3 linked regions of the Homo sapiens genome follow. The protein of the gene in region 1 purifies or fractionates together with the protein of each later gene. This does not show direct contact. Each region holds a gene or a part of one and is shown in the gene's direction. Other genes may lie near its edges.

Region 1 (8,573 bases):
GCATGCCTGTAGTCCCAGCTACTCGGGAAGCTGAGGCAGGAGAATCACTTGAACCCGGGAGGCAAAGGTTGCGGTGAGCTGAGCTCACGCCATTGCACTCCAGCCTGGGCAACAAGAGCGAATCTTCATCTCAAAAAAAAAAAAAAAAAGTTCAAGAGTGTAACTAGTTCACCCCAAGGTAGTGTGTGAGCTGCAGAGGTAACAGCCGCCCTCCTACCTCCCCCTAAATACCACATCATCCTCTGTATTTTATATGTGATTTCATATTTAAGTCAGTTCTGGGGCCAGGCCTGGTGGCTCACGTCTGTAATCTCACACTTTGGGAGGCCAAGGTGGACAGATCAGCTTGAGGCCAGGAGGTCAAGACCGGCCTAGCCAACATGGTGAAACCCCATCTTTATGAAAAATATAAAAATTAGCCAGGTATGGTGGCACATGCCTGTAATCTCAGCTGAGGCATGAGAATTGCTGAGCTTGGGAGGTGGCTGAGGCATGAGAATTGCTTGAGCTTGGGAGGTGGAGGTTGCAGCGAGCCAAGATGGTACCACTGCACTCCAGCCTGGGTGACAGAGCGAGACTCTGTCTCAGAAAAAAAAAAAAAAAAAAATCAGCTGTGAGCCAGGCCTGGTGGTTCACGCCTGTAATCCTAGCACTTTGGGAGGCCAAGGTGGGAGGATCACTTGAGGCCAGGAGTCCTAGACCAGCTTGAGCAATATAGTGAGACCCCATCTCTACCAAAAAAAAAAAAAAAAGTGTTTTTAATTAGCACACCTATAGTCCTAGCTATGTGTGAGACTGAGGCAGGAGGATTGCTTGGGCCCAGGAGTTTGAGGCTGCAGTGAGCTAAGACTGTGCCACTGCACTCCAACCTGGGCAACAGAGCAAGACCCTGTCTTAAGACAAAACCAAATTAAACAAAACAAAAAACAGCTCTATTTCATTCTTAACGTTATATTATTTCCACTCTACCATTTGTATTTATGCCAGGAGAATTTGTAAGAAAGTAGGTTTGTGGGTCTTCCAGTTAGTTCCTTTAGGGTGGATGCAGGTAAGAATATTTAAAGGTGGAGAGCAGAGTTTTTTGATTTATGATAATATTATGAGGGGACCAGTAAATGTTAGAATAGTGCCTGGCACAGACAGTGCTTTATGTGTGTTGTCTCATTTAATTCTTAGGAAACTGAGGCACAGAAAATTTAAGGAAATTGCCCCAGATCACGCAGCTAGTTAGGGGTGGAGTTGGGATATGAACCAAAGCAGCCTGATGAGTATGAGCGCCCAGCAACCACACTGTTCTGTCTACTAAAAAAAACTTGGCAAACTGCTTATTCCAGGCCCAGGAACAAGTAGTAGGCCCTGGGAGTTCCTGGGGACACCAGGAGCCAGAGGAGGCCTCACTGGAGGAGAAGATACCAGACTCTGGAAGCGAAGTTGAAGCAAGCCTAGCTGCTGGCACTTAGAACAGTCCCGAACTGCTCTTGAGACAGCTTGGGTGGTAGAATTGGGAGAGGCCAACCTATCAGTTGCAGTGTTGAAATGTGGCCACCAGGAGGCAGCAGAAAGTTGGGCTGGTAGCAGAAAAGGGCCTGGGGAGCCCACCTCTCATCCTGGCCTTTGTGCTTCAGGGCTCACTCGCTTTGACCTGCTGGGTGACTTTGGACGCTTCAACTGGCTGGGCAATTTCTACATTGTGTTCCTCTACAACGCAGCCTTTGCAGGCCTCACCACACTCTGTCTGGTGAAGACCTTCACTGCAGCTGTGCGGGCAGAGCTGATCCGGGCCTTTGGTGAGAGGGAGTGAGGGTGCAGGCTAGTGGGGGGTGGTAATCATCTAGGACACTCTGGAACATGGATCACCCCAGCAGGGGAGAGGGTGTGCTTCCTGCTTTGTGGGTAACGTACCTCATCCACACATTCTGTGGCTTGGCTGCCTGGTCCCTAACGGACTGGACCTTTGACTTGCTTTTGACTGCCCATCTCCTCTTCTCCAGGGCTGGACAGACTGCCGCTGCCCGTCTCCGGTTTCCCCCAGGCATCTAGGAAGACCCAGCACCAGTGACCTCCAGCTGGGGGTGGGAAGGAAAAAACTGGACACTGCCATCTGCTGCCTAGGCCTGGAGGGAAGCCCAAGGCTACTTGGACCTCAGGACCTGGAATCTGAGAGGGTGGGTGGCAGAGGGGAGCAGAGCCATCTGCACTATTGCATAATCTGAGCCAGAGTTTGGGACCAGGACCTCCTGCTTTTCCATACTTAACTGTGGCCTCAGCATGGGGTAGGGCTGGGTGACTGGGTCTAGCCCCTGATCCCAAATCTGTTTACACATCAATCTGCCTCACTGCTGTTCTGGGCCATCCCCATAGCCATGTTTACATGATTTGATGTGCAATAGGGTGGGGTAGGGGCAGGGAAAGGACTGGGCCAGGGCAGGCTCGGGAGATAGATTGTCTCCCTTGCCTCTGGCCCAGCAGAGCCTAAGCACTGTGCTATCCTGGAGGGGCTTTGGACCACCTGAAAGACCAAGGGGATAGGGAGGAGGAGGCTTCAGCCATCAGCAATAAAGTTGATCCCAGGGTTTGCTTTGTTTTTTTAAAGCACCTGTCTCTGTGTATATTTGAACAGCCTTGCTCCCACCAGCCCGGCGTCTGCCCAGTAAGAGAAGCAGAGGGGTCCTGCCCACCATCCTTTTCCTTCCCCTTCATCTATATTATTACCATCCTTTGGGGACTTGGATCTGGTGTTAGGCCATGCAGTTGGGCAGTGGGAAACTCCTCCATCCTCAGTCTTGCTTAAAGCTGGCTTGTCCCCTGACTCCTCCTTATATTCATGGCCTTGTTTCTGTACCTTGAGTATTGGGGGTAGGACATGGGCATAGGAGTAGGCTAACCTCCCCGATACACTCATACCTTCAGCCCTATCCTCCCTGGCTTAACTATTGGATATAGAGTAAAATAAGTGGCTGGCTGACAAGGATTTTCATTTCCTACCTGAGAGAAGAATCTAGCTTTTTACTAGAGGCCATCAGTTTCTTGAAAAGCCCATGTGCTATGTTGGGAGTAAGAGCGCAAAACTTAGGCTTATACAGATTGTGTATTGCACAGCTTCCAGGGACACCATTCACCTCATAGTCATTGTGTGGATAGTTACTATGATAGTTTTCTAATAAATGTCAGTCATCTTGAGGAAGGGGTGCTTTTTTTTTCTTTTTTCTTCTTCTTTTTTTTTTTTTTTTTTTTGTGAGACAAGGTCTGGCTCTATCACCCTGGCTGGAGTGCAGTGGTGCAATCTCAGCTCACTGCAACCTCCGCATTCTGGGCTCAAGCCATTCTTCCAGCTCAGGCTCCAGAATAGCTAGGACAACAGACACATGCTACCATGCCTGGCTAATTTTTGTATTTTTAGTAGAGATGGGGTTTTGCCATGTTGCCTGGGCTGGTCTTGAACTCCTGAGCTCAAGTGATCCACCTACCTTGGACTCCCCAAATGATGGAATTACAGGGGTTAGCCACAACACCCAGCCATCTTTTTTTTGGGGGGGGGGGTCCTCACTCTGTCACCCAGGTTAGAGTGCAGTGGCATGATCTTAGCTCACTCTACAGCCTTGAACTCTTGCACCCAAGTGATCCTCCTTCCTCAGCCTCCTGAGTACCTAAGACTACAGGCATGTACCACTACCTCCCACTAATTAATTTTTTTTTTTTGAAACGGGGTGTCACTATGTTGACCAAGTTGGTCTTCAACTCATGGCCTCAAGCAGTCCTTGCCTCGCCCCCAAAGTGTTGGGATTACAGGAGTGAGCCACTGTGCCTGGCCTGGTTTTTTCTGATGTACACAAAGTTGCTATGAGTACTAGCCATAGAGTGTGGTGAGGGGAGGGTGAATATGAAACACAAAGTGTAGATTCCACAAATGCTTGCAAAGCACCCTTCTGTAGAGTAGGCACTTAACCTTGGAGATACATGATAAATATGTGTGTGCTTAAGATTGCTTTGTCTAGTAAGGTGCCAGATAATTCTAATACTGTTCTAACACTGCAGTTAAGTAATGGTTCTCGAGGGAACACAGGTGGGCAGTGTTGGGACATCAAGGAAGGCTTCTTAGAAGAAATGACTTCTAAACAAAAGAAATTGGACGTGGTGCCTCTGAGATGAGATCTGAGTGGCTGAAAATGGAGCCCCGGGAGTCCAGAGAGGGAGAAAGCTGGAGAGGTGCCTAGATGGACGGTTAAGGGAAGTGATCCTCACCTCTTACAAAGACTTTTGAGTGTCCACTGCCCTTCAGCAGCTTCCAACTGAGAAGTCATTCATTTGAAAAACAGCAGCTATTAGATGCCTGGCAAAGAAGAGAAGGGGAAAAAAGTTGGAAGTCCTAAATGAGACAATAAGTACCAAGCTCTGTTCCTGGTTCTGGGGAAGTTCCAAAGGAGACTGCAAAGTTAGTAGAGAAATGGGCCCCTGGTATCCTCACCTCCCAGTCCTGCTTAATGCTGAATGTGAGGAGAGATGGAAGTCGGGGAGATCTGGGGAGGACTACAGAGAAGGGAGGCTCTGGTTGTATGCCCAAAGGGCTTGGCTGGTCTTGGGCAGAAATTGGAACCCATACTTCCTGGATGACAGCGGAGGGCATGGCCTGCCAGGGTAGGCTTTGAGAGAGTAAAAATTCCAATTCAAGTATCAGAGGAGGGTGGTTTGGTTCCAAGTTTAAGCTTGGAGGTAGAAGGATGTTTAGGCAGCCAAGGACTGTAAAGCTACAAGTATTTCCTAGGCAGGTGTCTGCCTGGTTTCCAGGATGGGACACACTTCAGTCGCAAAATGGACCAGCAGTGACCGGCTAGATCCCCCGCCCGGGTGGGAGGGGGTGGGACGGTCTTGGGAGAAGGGCGGAGGGCGGGGCCAGGGGCCACTTAAGGCGGAGTCCGGAGTCCGGGCGTTCTGGCAGCACCAGAGTCCTGCAGCAGAGACGGGCTGGGCTGGCACTCACCCACGACCCCCCTTCCCTGCTATGATGGTTTGTCAGTAGCAGGTCCTAGACACCCCCCGCCCGCTCCCGGGGCACGTGGGCAGAGCTAGCAGCAGCCAGGTGCACGGAGCCACAAGAGCTCTAGGGCACTCTGGGGGCAGCTGTGCCTGCTGCCCTCTCTGGTGCCTGTGGAGATGCCTAACTGACAGGAGAGTTAGTGAGGACAAGAACGCTCCCTTTTGGCCGAGGTCCGCTGTATCCATGGCTCTCCTGACCAATCTACTGCCCCTGTGCTGCTTGGCACTTCTGGCGCTGCCAGCCCAGAGCTGCGGGCCGGGCCGGGGGCCGGTTGGCCGGCGCCGCTATGCGCGCAAGCAGCTCGTGCCGCTACTCTACAAGCAATTTGTGCCCGGCGTGCCAGAGCGGACCCTGGGCGCCAGTGGGCCAGCGGAGGGGAGGGTGGCAAGGGGCTCCGAGCGCTTCCGGGACCTCGTGCCCAACTACAACCCCGACATCATCTTCAAGGATGAGGAGAACAGTGGAGCCGACCGCCTGATGACCGAGGTAAGGAGGGCCTCTCCCTACCTGCGCCGGGGCACTGCCAGCTCCTCCGTTTTCCTATGGCAGCCCAGGTGGGTGAGTCCAGCTTCACCTACAGAGAGTTTAGCCTTAGAGATTTCCCTTGTCACCAGCCCCAGGGGGGGGAAAAATCCTTGCAGTCTGGACAGAGTAATTAGGACGGCTCCCGACTAGAATAGTCTGGGATGGGGAGGGGAGGAGGGACTGACTAGTGAGAGTGAAGCTGGTAGAGGCAGCGAGGGCGGGGAAAGGAGGATGGCGGCAGGCGAGACGGGAAATGGCTGAGGCGTGGACCGGGGGTCAGCCACCCAGCCAGGCAGGAAGGGCTGGGGTGAGCTGGGGGCCAGGAGCTGGCTAGGTAGCAGACAGAAGCCTGGCTCCTGACCTGATTGTAGAAAAGCTCTGTGGGCCGAAAAGAAGAGACTGAAAAGGGCTGGGACAGGGGTGGCCAAGGGTCAGGTCACCAGACCATCTACCTGAGGAGGGGCTGGGCAGACATTGCTTTTGGCATGGGAAACGTGTCCTAGAACCAGGACACATCTATTCTAGGGTCTATTCTAGGGCTATCCTAGGGTCTAAACGATAATCTTGGGGTTAAAAAGTAATCCTCAGTGAGAATAACAGATGGACCCACCTGAGAATCAGAGGGCTCCTAAGTCTTCCAAGCTCTGCCTATCTCAGGGGCTTTCCTTGGAATTACATAATTAGGATAAATTCAACTACCATTTTTGAGCATTGGAACCACCTAGAGTGAGGTGGAAGAGAAGGACCACCTCTGGCGAGTGATTTATTTTTTATTTTTTGTAGAGACGGGGTCTTGCCATGTTGCCTAGGCTAGTCTTGAACTCCTGAGCTCAAGGGATCCTCCCACCTCGGCCTCCCAAAGTGCTGGATTACAGGTGTGAGCCACTTCATCCAGCCTGGCCAGTGATCTTGAATGTTAGAACTGAAAGAAAACTTGAGAGATGACATTCCTCCAACCCTCCCCACCCCCACTGCCACCCTCATTTTACATCTGAGAGCTGGACTTCCCCCAGGAGGAAAAGCAATTTAAACTCTCACAATTTAAAGTGGCATGGCTGGGACTAGAATTCAGGACTCCTGATTCTAAGCCCTATATACTTTCCATTACACCACCTAATTGTGTATGGAGTGGGGAGGTGGGGGGAGAGGGAGGGGTACGGATTTCCTCTGATTAATTGCCATAGTTTTCCAGGTTACTTTGTTAGGAAAACCTGTCCAGGGAAGAAATAATTCCTTTTGCTTCTGCCCTGAAGCCTTCCTCCTACCTAGAGATGGGAAAAGGGGCATTCCTTCTTTCCTCCTTGGCCGTGGAACATTGTGGCCCTTTCCTCTGGTTGCCACCTGCAGCAGAGTGGGCAGAACAAGGGACAGGCTCAGGAGGGGCTCCGGCAGGCCTGGGAGCCCCCTCAGTCTTACTTATCTCCCACACCCTGGCTGCAAAAGGCCTCCATTGAGTTGGCTCTGCACTGGGCTGCTGCCCCCGCAGGTCAGGGCCTCGGGGCCTCCTTAGGGGACGAAACGACAAAGTTGGAAGGAGCTACCACTTTTCCTGTTTTCCCCCCACCCAACCCCAACTCTGCGGGGTGGAGGAGACTAGAGGAGAGGGGAAAAGTGTCTTTCTGTTAGGAGAAAACCAAGTCCGAGGTGAGAGGTCGGAGGGGAAAGAAAAAAAGGAAGCTGTCCCTCTGCGCCTCCTCCCGCGGTGTCCCTGCTATGGTGCGCGCCAAGGTCTCCCGCTCCCAGGCTGGAGCGGCCAAGATAACTGTGGTCTCACTCCCCCAGGTGCAGGCTTCCAGCCGCAGCTTCTTTTCCTCTTCTCCGCTCTCACCCTGCAGGGGGCTCCCCAGATCCGCACAAGGAGACCGTTATTCTCAGGTGCTACTCCCACGCCCTTCTGGGCTGCATCTAGAGCAGAGATGGGAGAGATAGGGGCTCTCCGGACTGGCAGAGCCTTAGCTGGAACTGGGAAGACTGGACGCGCGGGGGGAGGGGACCTACCCGGACGGAGCAGGGATTGGGGGCGCGGCTTTCTGCCCTTTCCTCTCCCTGAGCCGGGGCGGCTGAAAAGCGCCTTTGTGGCCGGAGCTGCTGAGTCCGCTTCTCCCAGCGCGTTCCCGGCCTGGGCTCAGGATTCTCGCTCGGTTAAGTCATCCCGGATAATGGCCATTGTACTTCGCGCAACCCCCGCCACCCCAATCCTTTTTCCAGCAGCCTTGATCCCGCACAGCTCCTCTTGGGCACCTCTCTGGGGGGCACCCAGAGCACGAAGGGGTTAATGCTAAGGGCCCAAAGGAGGAGGAGGAAGGAAGGAAGGAAGCGATGCCCGGTGCCAGGGAAGGCAATGAAACAAAAGATGAATCAGGCGGAGGGAGGGGAGCCGGTGCCTGGGGCGGGGGCCAGGCTCAAACAGGGGCTCTCCGGGAGCAACCAGGCCCTCCCTGACCACGCTTCCATTCGCCCTCCTAACTCTGTCCTTCTCCCAGGTTGAGCCGCTGTCCCTGAACCAATAGGGGTGAGGGACGGGCATTAAAAATGGGGAAGGAGCTAGGTATGGGCACCCCCTCTCAACCTCAGAGGTGAGCCCACAGTTCTCCAACGACGTCCTGGGAACAGAGTGCAGATTGGTGACTACCATCGACTCAGATTCTCATTTCTCCAGGACACTCAAAAGCTGGGAGGGGTAAGAGTAGGGCCGGAATAACAAAGAATCAACCCTCCTATCCAGGTCCCTTTTGCCCCAAGGGTGGTGGTGGGGAGACTGACTCCTTTATTCCCCGCCAGCGTTGTAAGGAGCGGGTGAACGCTTTGGCCATTGCCGTGATGAACATGTGGCCCGGAGTGCGCCTACGAGTGACTGAGGGCTGGGACGAGGACGGCCACCACGCTCAGGATTCACTCCACTACGAAGGCCGTGCTTTGGACATCACTACGTCTGACCGCGACCGCAACAAGTATGGGTTGCTGGCGCGCCTCGCAGTGGAAGCCGGCTTCGACTGGGTCTACTACGAGTCCC
Region 2 (7,000 bases), on another chromosome or scaffold:
TCCCTCCTTCCACTTGCTCCTTTCTCTCCCCAATGCTTTTCTGTCTTGGAGCTGGCTGTAAAGAAATTCTGTGACCTATGTTGTCTGTTTGTACGTCATAAGATCCCCATTTCAGAAGGGTTCCTGTTCCATACCCTGGAGGAAGGAATGCTGCAGGTGAAGAAGAATCTGAACAGACAGCCGTTGCAGGGTTTCCCCAGTCAGTCTGCTAGTATTGGATCATGCCCTTTTTGTTCAGTCACATTTCTAGGCCCTTGCAATTCCTGGTCTTTTCCAAGAGCCAATCATACCTATTCAATAAAGTCTCAAAAAAAAAAAAAAAAGAAAAAGAAAAAGAAAAGCTCGAGAGGACAGGGTTTGGAAGCTTCTGGAGAGCAGAACATGTGAAGGTCCCTGGAGGATGGTGTGCCTAGAGAGAGCATGGAAGCTCTGTGCTCCTTCTTACATGCCTTTACCTATGCATCTCTTCATCCATATCCTTCATCATAGCCTTTATAAGCTGGTAAACATGTTTTCCCTGAGTTCTGTGAGCCACTCTAGCAAGTTAATCAAACCCAAAGAGAGTGTTGTGGAAACTCCAACTTGAAGCTGTCAAGTCAGAAGTTCTGGAGGCCTGGACTTGCATTTGGTAGGAAGGAGGAGGCAATCTTGGGAGCTGAGCCCTCAACCAGTGGAACCTTATGGTATCTCCAGGTAGAGAGTGTTGAAATTGAATTGGAGGATACCCAGCTGGTGTCTGCTGCAGAGTAGATTGCTTGCTTGGGATACGGGGAGAAATCCCCATACATTTGATCACAGAAGTCTTCTGTGTTGATGATTGTTGTGGTGTGAGAGCAGAGGAAAAAGTTTGAGTTTTTCCACACTCAGACATAGGCCTTGATAAGACATTTTCTCATTCCTTGAAGATTTTTATATGTGAGATATTTAGCCATTTTGAATGTTTCTGTACTGTGATGTATCATTTACTTGTCTTGAAGTCCTTGCCTTTGGGGATTGTCCAGGTAGCTAAACAACTTTACTACACACATTGCCTTCTTGAGAGCATTGGTATAGGTGGAATCCTGACCTAGTGCGAGCCCTGTTCTGACAGCCCAAGCCCCTGATGTATTCAGTGCCTTTGGAACTGTGAGCTAGTAAAAGCAGTTTCCACCAGGTCAATAACACAAAAGTTGTTGGATAAAGTCTTCTGTAGGTAGGAGAGGCTATAGTAGCATTTTTAGTATATATGTATATGGTTGTGGGGACATTAGTATTTGATTTTTTTTTTTTTGGTAACTCTACTTGTTGGTCATTCTTTCTAATCTTTTCTAGTTATAGATGTAGTCAGGCTTTGAGAAGGACCATATCTAATGTGAGGCCTAGGGGCTGACTTTAAGTATTCCTATGGCCTTTGTCCTGTGGGGAATGAAGGATTTTAGTTGTGGCCCTGCTTGTCCTGAGGGCCCTTCAGGACTTGTCTTCTTCCTAAAAAGAAGGTTTTACTATGGGCTTTCCTTTGTCAAATAAATTAATTGTTAATCAGTTGTTGGAAATCTTAAGAAATTTGAAATAGATTGATGTTTCAGCGAATTGAACTTCCTGAAGTTGCTTATTCGATTGAAATGGCTCATCCTGTAATCCCAGCACTTTGGGAGGCAGAGGTGAGATGATCACTTGAGGCCAGGAGTTCGAGACTAGCCTGGTTGGCAGAGTGAGACTGTGTCTTTTAAAAGAATTAAAAAAATTAGCTGGGCATGGTGGCATGTTCCCATAGTACTAGCTATGTGGGAAGCTGAGGCAGTAGGATTGTATGAGCCCAGGAGTTTGAAGATGAGTTTGTGTGTGTGTGGGGGGGCATTGATAGTTTATATATATTATAAACATATATACAAGATATATTGTATATCTTGTATATATATTTAAAACAGGTAAAATCACACATATATAAAACAAATATATGTCAAAGATTTTATTTAACTCACTAAATTAATGAGGGAACTGGAAAGGTTATTAGAACCTGTTCATAGGTGTCTTAGTCCATTTTGTGCTGCTATAATAGAATACCTGAGAATGAGTAATTTATAATGAACAGAAATGTTTTGGCTTATACTTCTGGAGGCTACGAAGTCCAATATCAAGGCGTTGGCATCTGGTGAGAGAGACAGATGTTGAAGTGCTATGGGTGGGCACCAATCCTACCCATGAGGGTGGAGCCCTCTGACCTAATCACCTCTTAAAGGTCCCACTTCTTAATATTGTTATAATGGCAATTAAATTTCAACGTGAGTTTTGGTGGAGATGTTCAAAGCATAACAGGAGAAGTCAACTGTAAGCTCATATGTAGTAAAAAAATCTTAAAATGAATTTAGAAGATCTGTTAATAATTGTGTCTCACAGAACACTATTAATTTGCATTTCAATGAACAAAACTTACTTGCTTTGTTAACAGTTTTCTGCAAGTTAAAGTGTATCTCTATACAGTCGTCATATATCTTAAAGACAAAGGCACATACCTTCTTAGAGTCAGACAATACAAGCAGGTTCCAGCATCCCATTGGAAGGATATCCAGTAGTCTCTTTTGCTCATTTCAAAGTCTTAAGTTTTTCCTTACAATATTGAACTCATCTATAAAGTGGAAATAGTGGCTCTGTAGGTCATAAGTGATTGTTGTGAGATTTGGCTTTATATTAACATTTATAAGTCTTCTTGGTAGGTGCTTAATAAATGGTAGCTGCCGCTTTGGTGTTCACTTGGCTTTGCCTTGCAAAGGCAGGAGATAGATGTCAGGAAGTTGCTTAGGCACTGAGCTGCATATTAGTTCCTGACTGTTAGTACCCTGGCCTCGTTTTGCTCTTTGTGGTCTAGTAGACTCAGCTGAGCTTTTACTCTTTGGTCTGCTTGCAGGTACCTTCTTTGTTTCTTCTTGTTTGGTCTGCTTGTAGGTACCTTCTTTGTTTCTTCTTGTTTGGTCTGCTTGTAGGTAGGCTCCGTATTGTGATGTCTGCCTGTACTTTGTACTCAGGAAGTGCTCTGCATTTATTATGATCCTTTCTATTGCAGATGAAGACTATTTTTCATGTTCTTAACTAAGCCTTTGCCCTCTTTCCATTTTCTCTGAGGCAGGCTCATGCAAAATGAGCACCCCTTGGTGTCACCTAGGCAGATGCTGACATACTTTATTATTTTGAGGTTACTTCAGGCCCTCCCTTTATCTGCTGACTTTGGGAGAGCTCTAGATGGTGGGCCTGATGTGTCTTGTGGTGCTACCAACTTGAAGGTGCCTATGGAAGACACTGAAGCCAGAAGCCTTAGCTTTCCTCCCTTACCCAGGCTCCAGGCTCTATTGTTTTTTCTTAGGTGTTTTTCTAATTGCCTCCCTGGGATTGGCCAGGAATCTTTTTCTTTTCTTTCTTCTTCTTCTTTCTTTCTTTCTTTTTTTTTTTTTTTTAAACACACTGTTGCTGGCTTGAAATGTCAGGAATCTTTAAGTGTTTATATGCAGGCCATTTCTGTGAGGGTGACGCAAGTTGCTATTCAGTTGCAAGTAATTGCACCAATTATTTGGTAGAATGTAGGGAGGAAGCGGTGGTGTTGACAGTGTCAGAAATGAAGAGAGGAGGGCCTTGTTGAACATTTGTCCACCATGGATTGGCTAAAGTACAGCATTGAGGTTCATTGTTTATGTTCCTATAAAATAGGCACAGTACCTGTCTTGTACCTGTGTTGGTGGATTGCTGTTCATAATAATTTTATAGCTTTAGGAAGTAGGCTGACAAAGGAGTAAAATATGATATTAATAAGTTTTGTTTTTTCTTCCCCGTTTTTTGGCAGAATAACCAAGTGCTGGGAATTGGAAGTGGTTCTACAATTGTCCATGCTGTGCAGCGAATAGGTATGCTCTCTCACTGTCTACTGGATGTTTTGTGTGTGATGATGGGGTAGGGAGGTAGAGGAGAGGGAGGAAGTGGCACACAGGTTTGGCATTGCCCTTTTGGCTTCAGCAGTACAGAGCTGGAGAGAGGGACTACCTGAGGTCAGTTGAGTGTTTCTGCTCTTTTGTGGAGAGAGGGAATCTTGGGCCTCTTCATCCAACTTTGAAGGACGCCCTTGCCTTTGTTTACTCTGCTCAGCTGGAGGGGAGGAGCTGACTTAGCTTGAGGTCCCAATATAATTTTAATCATGTTGATGGCATTCTACCATTGAGTTCTTTGCGTGAGCTCAGACTTCCTCAGGCAGATAATTGAGGCCATAGTGGGTTTGCCCTGTCCATGACCCTGGAGTGGATGTGGGACTCCTGCCATTGATGGCTGGTTCCTGCAGGTGCTCATTTCACACTGATTAGGGTGTCTCTATGCTTAGGAAAGACTCAGGAATTATCAGCCCCTATGGCTGCTCAACAGGTTTTACTTCCCTGCTCTTTGTTTGTAAGAACAAAGCCCAGAGGAGAGGCCTGCCTGAATGCTGAATTCTTCTAGGTGCCAAGGGGCAGAGCCCAGGAGGTAAAGTCCAGGAACACTTTGTTATCAAGGAGTGGTTTTAGTGCTGGTGTGATGGCTTCTGGAAGCCTTCTCACTGGCCAAATAGGAGCTTTTGTGTTATATACCTTTCAATCTTAACCAAGTATCTGGAGAATACTTTCAGGGCACAGGAGTTACTATGGATTTTATAATAGTGGCACCCAAACCTCCCAAGATGCACTCAGTGATTAAAAAGACTTGAAATTTTAATACGAATTTTTTCCTGAAGTCTTTTTTTTTTTTTTAAATCAAACTTTCCTGAAAGGTACAAATCCAAATTGAAAAAATAAATCTCCTTTAGCTACTCTCTGGGGCCTACAAATAAGTATGTTTTTTACTAAAATGCAAAAGTAAAGTTCTGGCTTTTTCCTAGAAGAGGCAATATAGGGGAGTTAAGACTGTGTGGCTACATGGCCTGGGATCATGTCCCAGCTGTGTCCCTTATTAGCAGTATAACTACCGAGTTACATTACCTCTCTGAACCTCAGTTGCCTTATCTGCAAAATGCGGAAAATAATTTAACTTACCTTTTGGGTTGTTAGGATTAAGAGTTCATATATACAAAGTTCTTAGAATATTGTCAGGCACATAACAATGGCAAACACTGACACTGCTTTCTGTGGTCAGTACTTACCTCTCCAGGCTTTCTTGTGTCCCTATCTTCTGATGTGTGAGGTACAGTCACCAACTTTCCCACCAAGGAGGGGGACACAGGATGAAAGGCAGCTGTCTTTGGGAAATAGACCTTCCCTTGTCTGTTGGTTTCGAGCAAACACATATGACAAGAAGAATAAAGTAAGGAGAGTGAAAAACTGCCAATATGGCTTTTGTTTCCACAGCTGAAAGGGTGAAGCAAGAGAATCTGAACCTCGTCTGTATTCCCACTTCCTTCCAGGTATGTCCTGCTTTCCATCTGCATCGTGACAGCTTCTGCTGTATCTTCTGGTTCCCCGGGGTTGTGGACCTATGGCCTTGTCTTGTACCTCAAGGTTGTTCTAGGTCAGAGAGTCCAGGAATAGGAGAGTTTATTGACCAAGGATTCCTTCTTGGAATTGTAGTTTTAGGTGCATTTGTTTAATCACTTGGTGAATATTTCAGTGCATGTTGAGTTTAGGCACTACGGAGAATGCAGAGATGGCCCGGTAGTCTCTCTCCTCAAGGAATATTACTCCTATTTATAGGTGAAAAAAATCAGGCTAGGCCAGGTGTGGTGGCTCATGCCTGTAATCTCAAGTACTTTGGGAGGCCAAGGTAGGCAGATCACTTGAGCACAGGAGTTCAAGACCAGCCTGGGCATTATGGTGAAAGCCTGCCTCTACAAAAAATACAAAAATTAGCTGGGTGTGGTGGCTTGTACCTGTAGTTCCAACTATGTAGGAGGCTGAGGCGGGAGGATCTCCCTTGAGCCCAGGAGGTCCAAGCTGCAGTGAGCTGTGATTGTGCCAGTGCACTCCAGCCTGGGCAACAGAGTGAGACCCTGTCTCAAGAAAAAAAAAATCAGGCTAAAAGGAATTAAGCAATGTGTTGGTAATGCAAGTACATCATAAAATAGTAGGAGCTGATGGAGGAAAGCAGTGGAGCCAGTTAAATATAGGGAGAGATAAGGGAAGAGAGGTTTTGGGAAGTGGAAGGGAAGACAGTTGCTCAGATGGAGCCAATTGTCATCCCTCATCTGGCCATTGCAGGGAGGAGTATGTGTATAATCTCTCGCTGGATTAGTCAAGATGATACTATGCACTGGGGTAGGAGATGAGATTTATGAGTGACTGATGCTCCTGGGACTTTATGGACTTAGGCTTGGATAGCTGGGTTTCTTAGGAAACCCTCCCAATCCTGGAGACACAGGATGCTGGCAGCCTGCAACCAGCTCTGGTGAAGGGAGAGAGGTTAAGGTTCCTTCTAAACCAGACTGGCCTCAGCTTAACAGTAGGGTGTAAGGCAGAGATTCCAGGTAGACAGGTTAGGGAGTTGGATAGTGCATACTGTTGGAGCTTCCTTGATGTTAAATCTCTTGGAGACCTTAAACAAGGTGGATGGCCACCCAGGGGACTGAAGGCAATATCTTAAGTGTTTTATATAGCTTTTTTTTTTTTTTTTTAAATCCTGCTTTCTTGAGGCAATGCTTTTAAAGCCTCAGTGGCTTGTGATGGATTTTCTTAGTCTTTTGAAAAGCTAAGTATCTAATTTTTCCAACTGGCTTGATCATCAAGTATTTTTATTTCTTAGTTAATAAATTACATTGGTGTTTATTTTTAAAGTTATATATGCACGTGGATTGAAGAAACAAATAATTCAAGTCTTTTTATTTAAAAGAAAAAAAAGCACACTACCCTCACTTTCCCCTAGATGACCACTACCTAGAAAGCACACTCTTATTACCTCCCACCCCTGACCTCCACTATTTCTTGCTCTTTACATGGACATACTTTTAGCTCTTTTAGGTGATTGGATATTCTAACAGCCACTATAGATTTAAGTCAAAGTTAATTTTATTCTGAGCCAA
Region 3 (7,838 bases), on another chromosome or scaffold:
ATTTCTCATGCCTCAGCCTCCTGTGTACCTAGGATTAAAGGCACCTGCCACCACGACCGGCTAATTTTTTTTTTGTATTTTTAGTAGAGATAGCATTTCACCATGTTGGCCAGGCTTGTCTTGAACTCCTGACCTCAGGTGATCTACCTGCCTCGACCTCCCAAAGTGCTGGGATTACAGGCGTGAGCCACCACGCCAAGCCAGAAAAGTAAGTATTTTCTAGCACAGAAGCAGTCTACAAAACCAACCAAGTTTTGATAGCAAAATAGAAAAGCCCAGTTGTGGCTACAAATCCAGCTCTTTATTGGCCAAATAGACGTTTAGGATGTTTTAGCCTTTCATAGGAGACAGAATTGGTGGGTAAGTATTGCCACCCCGTGGCTGCGGTTCACATTGCAGTTTGTCCTTTTATCTTCAAAATACTAAACCAAGGCTTGTGTCCTTTGGATATCCCCTAATAGTAAAATGTTTTAGAAATTTGAGAAACTCACATAGGGTTATTAAAATATTGACAAGTAAAAAAAATTTTAAAACCTACTATCCTATTGTCATTATGAGTTTGTAAAAGACCAGACGTTGAGCCAGGTGGGATGGCTCACGCCTGTAATTCCAGCACTTACAGAGGCCAAGGCAGGTGGATCACCTGAGGTCAGGAGGTGGATCACCTGAGGTCAGGAGGTGGATCACCTGAGGTCAGGAGTTCGAGACCAGCCGGGCCAATATAGTGAAACCCCGTCTCTACTAAAAATACAAAAATTAGCCAGGCATTGTGGTGGGTGCCTGTAATCCTAGCTATTTGGGAGGCTGAGGTAGGAGAATCACTTAGAACCCAGGAGGCGGAGGTTGTAGTGAGCCGAGACTGTGCCACTGCACTCCAGCCTTGATGAAAAAGCCAGACTTTGAAAAAACAAAAAAATCAGATGTTGAAAACCAAAAAACTAGAAAGGACACAAACTCAGATAAAAGGACAGTCCTGCTTATGAAAGTTCAGTTCAAAATTTTTCTTTTCTTTCTTTCTTTTTTTTTTTTTTTTTGAGACAGGGTTTGTTCTGTCACCCAGGCCGGAGTGCAGTGGTGCAAATGCAGCTCACTACAGCCTCGACCTCCCAGGCTCAAGAATCCTCCCACCTCAGTCTCCCAAGTAGCTGGGACCACAGGTGGGCTCCAACATGCCAGGCTAATTCTTAAATTTTGTATACAGACAAGGTCTTGTTATGTTGCCCAGGCTGGTCTCGAACTCCTGGGCTCAAGCAGTCCTCCTGCCTTAGCCTCCCAAAGTGCTGGGATTATAGGCATGAGCCACTCCACCCAGCTGAACTGTGTATGCATTTCGTAAATATATAAATATTCCCTATATTAACTATTAATATTAACTATATTTATAATATTTACATAATTGTCCTTTATCAATATATGTCTCAGATTTATCAACTCAAGTGCAGCCAAATTCTGTCTCTAAAAAATGAGTAAATAAATGAATAAATAGGCCGGGCACGGTGGCTCATGCCTGTAATCCCAGCACTTTGGGAGGCCGAGGCGGGTGGATCACCTGAGTTCAGGAGTTCGAGACCAGCCTGGCCAATAGGGTGGAGCCCCGTCTCTACTAAAAATACAAAACAAAATTAGCCGGGCGTGGTGGTGGGCGCCTGTAATTCCAGCTACTCAGGAGGCTGAGGCAGGAGAATCGCTTGAGCCAGGAGGTGGAGGATGCAGTGAGCTGAGGTCACGCCACTGTACTCCAGCCTGGGCAACAAAAGTGAAACTCCGTCTCAAAAAAATAAAAAATAAAGGAATAAAGACAGAGATAAGGAATAAAGGAATAGAGACGGAGATAAGTTTTTTTTGTTTTTTTGTTTTGAGATGGAGTCTCGTTCTGTCGCCCAGGCTGGAGTGCAGGGGCACGATCTCGGCTCACTGCAACCTCCGCCTCCCGGTTTCACATGATTTTCCTGCCTCAGCCTCCTGAGTAGCTGGGATTACAGGCACACACCACCACACCCAGCTAATTTTTTGCATATTTCTAGTAGAGACAGGGTTTCACTATGTTGGCCAGACTGGTCTCAAACTTCTGACCTCGTGATCCGCCCACCTCAGCCTTCCAAAGTGCTGGGATTACAGGCATGAGCCACCGCGCCCGGCTGGAGACAAGGTCTTGTAACAGATACTTAATGTGGGTGGTGTCGGGAGTGAGACAGTGGGAGAGTTCATGAGTAATGCTTTCCTTCACGCAGAGGCAAACTGTTTTTGGTCCTCTTTTCTGTTAGGGATTGAAAAGAACCCACTCACCAGATCAGTGTCCTGTATCATGTTTCAGAGGGTGTGTTGATCTCTTCTGGTAAAACAGATGCCATGGCTGGGCGCGGTGGCTCAGGCCTGTAATCTCAGCACTTTGGGAGGTGGAGGCGGGCAGATCACCTGAGGTCAGGAGTTGGGGACCAGTCATGGCCACCATGGTGAAATTCCGTCTCTACTAAAAATACAAAAAATTAACCGGGTGTGGTTGTGCACGCCTGTAATCCCAACTACTTGGGAGGCTGAGGCAGGAGAATTGCTTGAACCCAGGAGGCGGAGGTTGCAGTGAGTCGAGATCATGTCACCGTACTCAAGCCTGGGTGATAGACTGAGACTCTGTCTCAAAAAACAAACAAACGAACAAAAAAACAGACGGCACGCTTGACACAGCAGCTATGAGTTGGACCATGCACTTGCCTAAATGTATGGTGGTCCCCTGTCCCCTACCACAGTCCATCTTTTTTTATTTTTTGAGACGGAGCCTCGCTCTGTCGCCAGGCTGGAGTGCAGTGGTGCGATCTCGGCTCACTGCAACCTCCGCCTCCCGGGTTCAAGCTATTCTCCTGCCTCAGCCTCCCAAGTAGCTGAGACTACAGTGCGTTCCACCACGCCCAGCTAATTTTTGTATTTTCAGTAGAAATGGGGTTTTACTATGTTGGCCAGGATGGTCTCCATCTCTTGACCTCGTGATGTGCCTGCCTTGCCCTCCCAAAATGCTGGGATTACAGGTGTGAGCCACTATGCCTGGCCAATCCATCAGTTTTTTTAGGAGCCAAACAGGTGAACTCAATGGGGAGCTACCCATTGGATAGGAATCACCACCCCTCTGAATCTTTTACATCTTTGAAGGTGGCACTAGCATCTACAATTCCATGTGGCAAACAGTGTGTGTTCTGATTGAATACTGGCTGGGTCGAGACAGGGTAAGGGGACCGATGTGAATGGCTAAGTTTATCTATCCCAAATGGTGGCAGGGAACTTACTACCAGGCGGGTCCATAGACACATTTATTTTTACTTTTATATTTACATTTAATTTAATTTTTTTTTTTTTCAGAGACAGGGTCTCACTCTGCTGTCCTGGCTGGAGTGCAGTGGTGCAATCATGGCTCACTGCAGCCTCGAACTCCTGGGCTTAAGCCATCCACCTGCCTCAGTCTCCTAAGTAGCTGGCACCACAGGTGCACACCATCACGCCGAGCTAATTTTTAAATTTTTTTGTAGAGAAAGGGTCCCACTATTTGCCCAGGCTGGTCTCGAACTCTCAAGTGATTCTCCCACCTTTGTCTTCCAAAGTGCTGGAAGACTGGGTCCGCCGCAGAGAATACATTTCATAGCCCGGGAGACTGGTGGTTTCAGTGCCTTCATGAATTTTACTCCCTGTAGTAAGAGGCTTTCCATGAGCAGTCTTGTGGTCACCACATTTTATTAGTGGGTTTTCCCCAGTCATCTTCCATAAAACAGGCCTGCACAGGCTGGGGGCGGTGGCTTATGCCTGTAATCCCAGCACTTTGGGAGGCCGAGGTGGGTGGATCACTGGAGGTCAGGAGTTCAAAACCAACCTGGCCAACATCGTGAAACCCTGTCTCTACTAAAAATACAAAAATTAGCCGGGCGTGGTGGCGTACGCCTGTGGTCCCAGCTACTCGGGAGGCTGAGACACGAGAGTCACTTGAACCCAGGAGGGGGAGGTTGCAGTGAGCCTGTCGATAGGTTTGAGGGGACCTGGGCAGGGGATGCGAAGGCAGCAGGGAATCGTCCACTCCAGCTCGCTGTCGCTGGAGGACGGCCTGGGGCGGCGTGGGAGCAGACCGGAGCGGAGACGGCTGCAGCAAGGCCAGGTAAGAAATGTCGCGGGGCAATAGCAAGGGAGCAAAACAGGACACGCAGTTTCGCTAAGGGACAAGAATCCTAATCCCGCCCCTAACCCCGCCCCTCACCATCGCCACGCCACGCCTCCCTGAGCCTTGGGCTGCCGTCAGCGCCTTTGCCTTCAACCAGGAGTAAAAGTGGCCGTAGCCTCTTCCGGCGAGGACTGGTGTTAAGGGTCACGCAAGATGGCGGCGCCCAGAGGCTGCTGAGGCGCGGAACGGAGGATGGCGCTGGTGGCGTTGGTGGCTGGGGCTCGGCTGGGGCGGCGGCTGAGCGGGCCGGGGCTGGGGCGAGGGCACTGGACGGCGGCCGGGCGCTCCCGGAGCCGGCGCGAAGCGGCAGAAGCCGAGGCGGAGGTGCCCGTGGTCCAGTACGTGGGCGAGCGCGCTGCCCGCGCCGATCGCGTCTTCGTGTGGGGCTTCAGCTTCTCGGGGGCGCTGGGCGTGCCTTCCTTTGTGGTGCCCAGCTCCGGGCCCGGGCCCCGCGCCGGCGCCCGACCGCGCCGCAGGATCCAGCCCGTGCCCTATCGCCTGGAGCTGGACCAAAAGGTGCAGGCCGCGGCTTCCTCCTTCTCTCCTTCTCTCTCTTCCGCGCTCCCGGCCTCCCTCGACCTGTTCGGCTCTCTTCAAGAAGTTGGCTCCTCTGGGTGGACAGACTTCCGGCAGGACGACCCTCGAGCTGGCTGCAAGCCCAGGAGGGGAAGGCGTTAGGGGTGGCCATCAACATTTATTGGGTGGCAGTGCCAGATGTTGTGCCGGGTCGTGTCATTCGCTTAGCACCCAGTGAGTCGACAGTTATTCCCAATTACAGGGAAGGAAGGGGAGGCCCAGAGAGGTTGAGGCCCGAGGCCCCACCGCTGCTAGCTGTTTATATGCGGTGGAATTCTCACTCAGGCCAGCGTGACTGCAGGAGTTCTGATGTTAGGAAAGCAAAATTCAAAAGTCCATTGAAAATGTATACCAGCTGAGGTGTTTCAATGAACAACTCAGAAAGGGGATTTTTTTGTTTTAATTTATTTTTTAGAGACAGGGTCTCGCTCTGTCGCTCAGGCTGGAGTGCAGTGGTGTCATCATAGCTCACTGCAGCCTCGACCTCCTGGGCTCAAGAGATCGTCCTGCCACCTAGCCCGGCAAATTTTTGTATTTTTAGTAGAGATGGGGTTTCGCCATGTTTGCTAGACTGGTCTTGAACTGAACTCAAGCGATCCGCCCGCCTTGGCCTCCCAAAGTGCTGGGATTACAGGCGTGAGCCACTGTGCCTGGCTGAAAGAGGATTGATTTTAAAATCAAACCATCTTTGGTCTATATCCAACCTCACTGGAAGCCCCGGTTTTCTCATCGGGTCAGTGAAGGGAGGATTGATGAGAGTGTAGTTAAAACACCCAACAAAGACCTTGGGGTTGTCACTGTGTTAAATTCACAGTAGCTGTAGTACTGAGTTTTCCTTTTCATGGTAATAGCCTGAGTACGTAACGGTGTAGTGTCAGTGAAAAGCATGCAGTCAAGTTACTCAACCTTTAGAAGCCACACTTTCTCATCTGCCTTATACTACTGCTAACAGCAATAAGAAATAGAAAATATAATAACAAAAGCAATAACAAAAACTAAACAACAACAACAAAAAGCATACAATATAGGCCAGGTGCGGTAGCTCATGCCTGTAATTTCAGCACTTTGGGAGGCCAAGGCAGGAGGATCATTTGAGTTCAAGAGTTTGAGACCAGCCTGGGTAACACAGTGAGAACTCATCTCTCTGTCTCTCTCTCTCTCCATATATATATATATATATATATATATATATGTATATGTATATGTATATGTATAAATTTAAAATACAAAATAGAGTACAAAATATAGGTTTGTTTTTTTTTTTTGATCTGGCTCTGTTGCCCAGGCTGGAGTACAGTGGCGTGATCATGGGTCACTGCAGCCTCGACCTCCTGGATTCAAGTGATCCTCCTGCTTCAGCCTCCCATGTAGCTGGGACCAAGCTTAAATTTTGATTTTTTCATAGAGACAGGTTGTCACTTTGTTGCCTAGGCTCAAAATATAGCTCTTACCTTGAGATGGGTACTATTCCCTATAAGGGCTTTAGCTATATTAACTCGTTTAGTCTTCACAACAGCTTAGTGAGAGAGATGGTACTATTATCATCTTTACTTTTTAGAGAAGGAGAAACAGATATAGAGGTAAAGTAATCTATCTCAGATCACACAGTTGGTAAGGATGGGGCCAGGATTCAAAACTAAGGAGATCTGTCAACTTACCTACCGCGCTAAGAGATGGTGGTGTTTTTTGTTTTGTTTTGTTTTGTTTTGTTTTTGAGACAGAGTCTTATTCTGTCACCCAGGCTGGAATGCAGTGGCGCCATCTTGGCTCACTGCAACCTCTGCCTCCCAGGTTCAAGCACTTCTCCTGCCTCCCGAGTAGCTGAGATTACAGGCGCACGCCACCATGCCTAGCTAATTTTTGTATTTTTAGTAGAGATGGGGTTTCACCATGTTGGCCAAAGCGGGTCTCAAACTCCTGACCTCAAGTGATCTGCCTGCCTCAGCCTCCCAAAGTGCTGGGATTACAGGTGTGAGCCACCGTACTCGGCTGCTGCTAGATAGTGTCTTGATCTTGGTGAATGGGGATGGTAATACCTAGTGGTAAGCTGACATAGACCATAAATAGACTATATTTATGGTCTATGTGTAAATCACCCTTCATAGAGTGATTATAAAGATTAAATGAGATAATACTTATCAAACATATAGTAAATGCTCAATAAATGCTAGTTGCTGTCTTAATAATATGTGTTCTTGGGCCAGGCACGGTGGCTGACGCATATAGTCCCAGCACCTTGGGAAGCCAAGGCGGACAGATCACTTGAGGCCGGGAATTTGAGATCACCTGGGCCAACATAGTGAAATTCTGTCTCTACTAAAAATACAGAAGTTAGCCAGACGTGGTGTGCACACCTGTAGTCCCAGCTACTTGGGAGGCTTGAACCTGGGAGATGGAGATTGCAGTGAGCCGAGATTGCGCCACTGCACTCCAGCCTGGGCAACAGAGTGAGACTGTCTCAAAAACAAAAACAAAACCCCCGTAAATAGTATGTGTTCTTGGATTTGATAAATAACCTGTCATTTACTACTGAACAAACTTGACATTATAAATCAGTTCATGCTTTGTGGGAACTGCTTTTCAGATTTCATCTGCTGCTTGCGGCTATGGATTCACACTGCTGTCCTCTAAGACTGCGGATGTTACGAAAGTCTGGGGGATGGGACTCAACAAAGATTCTCAGCTTGGATTTCACAGGAGCCGGAAAGATAAAAGTGAGCATCCCTACCTTGTCTCCTCTTTGCCGGGATTGGTCTGAGAAAGCTCTTTTTTTGTATTTTTTTTGAGACAGAGTCTCAGTCTGTTGCCAGGCTAGAGTGCAGTGGCGAGATCCTGGCTCACTGCAACCTCCACCTCCCGGGTTCAAGTGATTCTCCTGCCTCAGCCTCCCGAGTAGCTGGGATTACAGGCACATGCCACCATGCCTGCCTAATTTTTGCATTTTTAGTAGAGTTGGGGTTTCACTATGTTCACCAGGCTGGTCTCGAACTCCTGAGCTCAGGTGATCCACCCTCCTCAGCCTCCCAAAGTGCTGTGATTACAGGCATGAGGCACAGCGCCCAGCCCT

The links.
Region 2: the proteins of DHH (region 1) and RPIA purify together in Homo sapiens (affinity purification with mass spectrometry; 2 studies listed by BioGRID and IntAct, with this or other methods). This does not show direct contact.
Region 3: the proteins of DHH (region 1) and RCC1L purify together in Homo sapiens (affinity purification with mass spectrometry; 2 studies listed by BioGRID and IntAct, with this or other methods). This does not show direct contact.

What each region holds. Positions count from the first base shown.
Region 1 is NC_000012.12:49,091,158-49,099,730, reverse strand, and holds the start of DHH (desert hedgehog protein preproprotein), read left to right. Parts: upstream 1-4,929; 5' UTR 4,930-5,218; coding exon 5,219-5,521; intron 5,522-5,542; exon of another isoform or gene 5,543-5,609; intron 5,610-6,312; exon of another isoform or gene 6,313-6,482; intron 6,483-6,814; exon of another isoform or gene 6,815-7,273; coding exon of another isoform or gene 7,274-7,435; exon of another isoform or gene 7,436-8,240; intron 8,241-8,341; coding exon 8,342-8,573. Other genes in the region: protein LMBR1L, read left to right, coding at 1,626-1,787, 1,992-2,059.
Region 2 is NC_000002.12:88,694,673-88,701,672, forward strand, and holds part of RPIA (ribose-5-phosphate isomerase), read left to right. Parts: intron 1-3,811; coding exon 3,812-3,872; intron 3,873-5,336; coding exon 5,337-5,392; intron 5,393-7,000. UniProt on the Homo sapiens protein: Catalyzes the reversible conversion of ribose-5-phosphate to ribulose 5-phosphate and participates in the first step of the non-oxidative branch of the pentose phosphate pathway.
Region 3 is NC_000007.14:75,070,287-75,078,124, reverse strand, and holds the start of RCC1L (RCC1-like G exchanging factor-like protein), read left to right. Parts: upstream 1-4,322; 5' UTR 4,323-4,387; coding exon 4,388-4,711; exon of another isoform or gene 4,712-4,945; intron 4,946-7,355; coding exon 7,356-7,485; intron 7,486-7,838. UniProt on the Homo sapiens protein: Guanine nucleotide exchange factor (GEF) for mitochondrial dynamin-related GTPase OPA1. Activates OPA1, by exchanging bound GDP for free GTP, and drives OPA1 and MFN1-dependent mitochondrial fusion. Plays an essential role in mitochondrial ribosome biogenesis.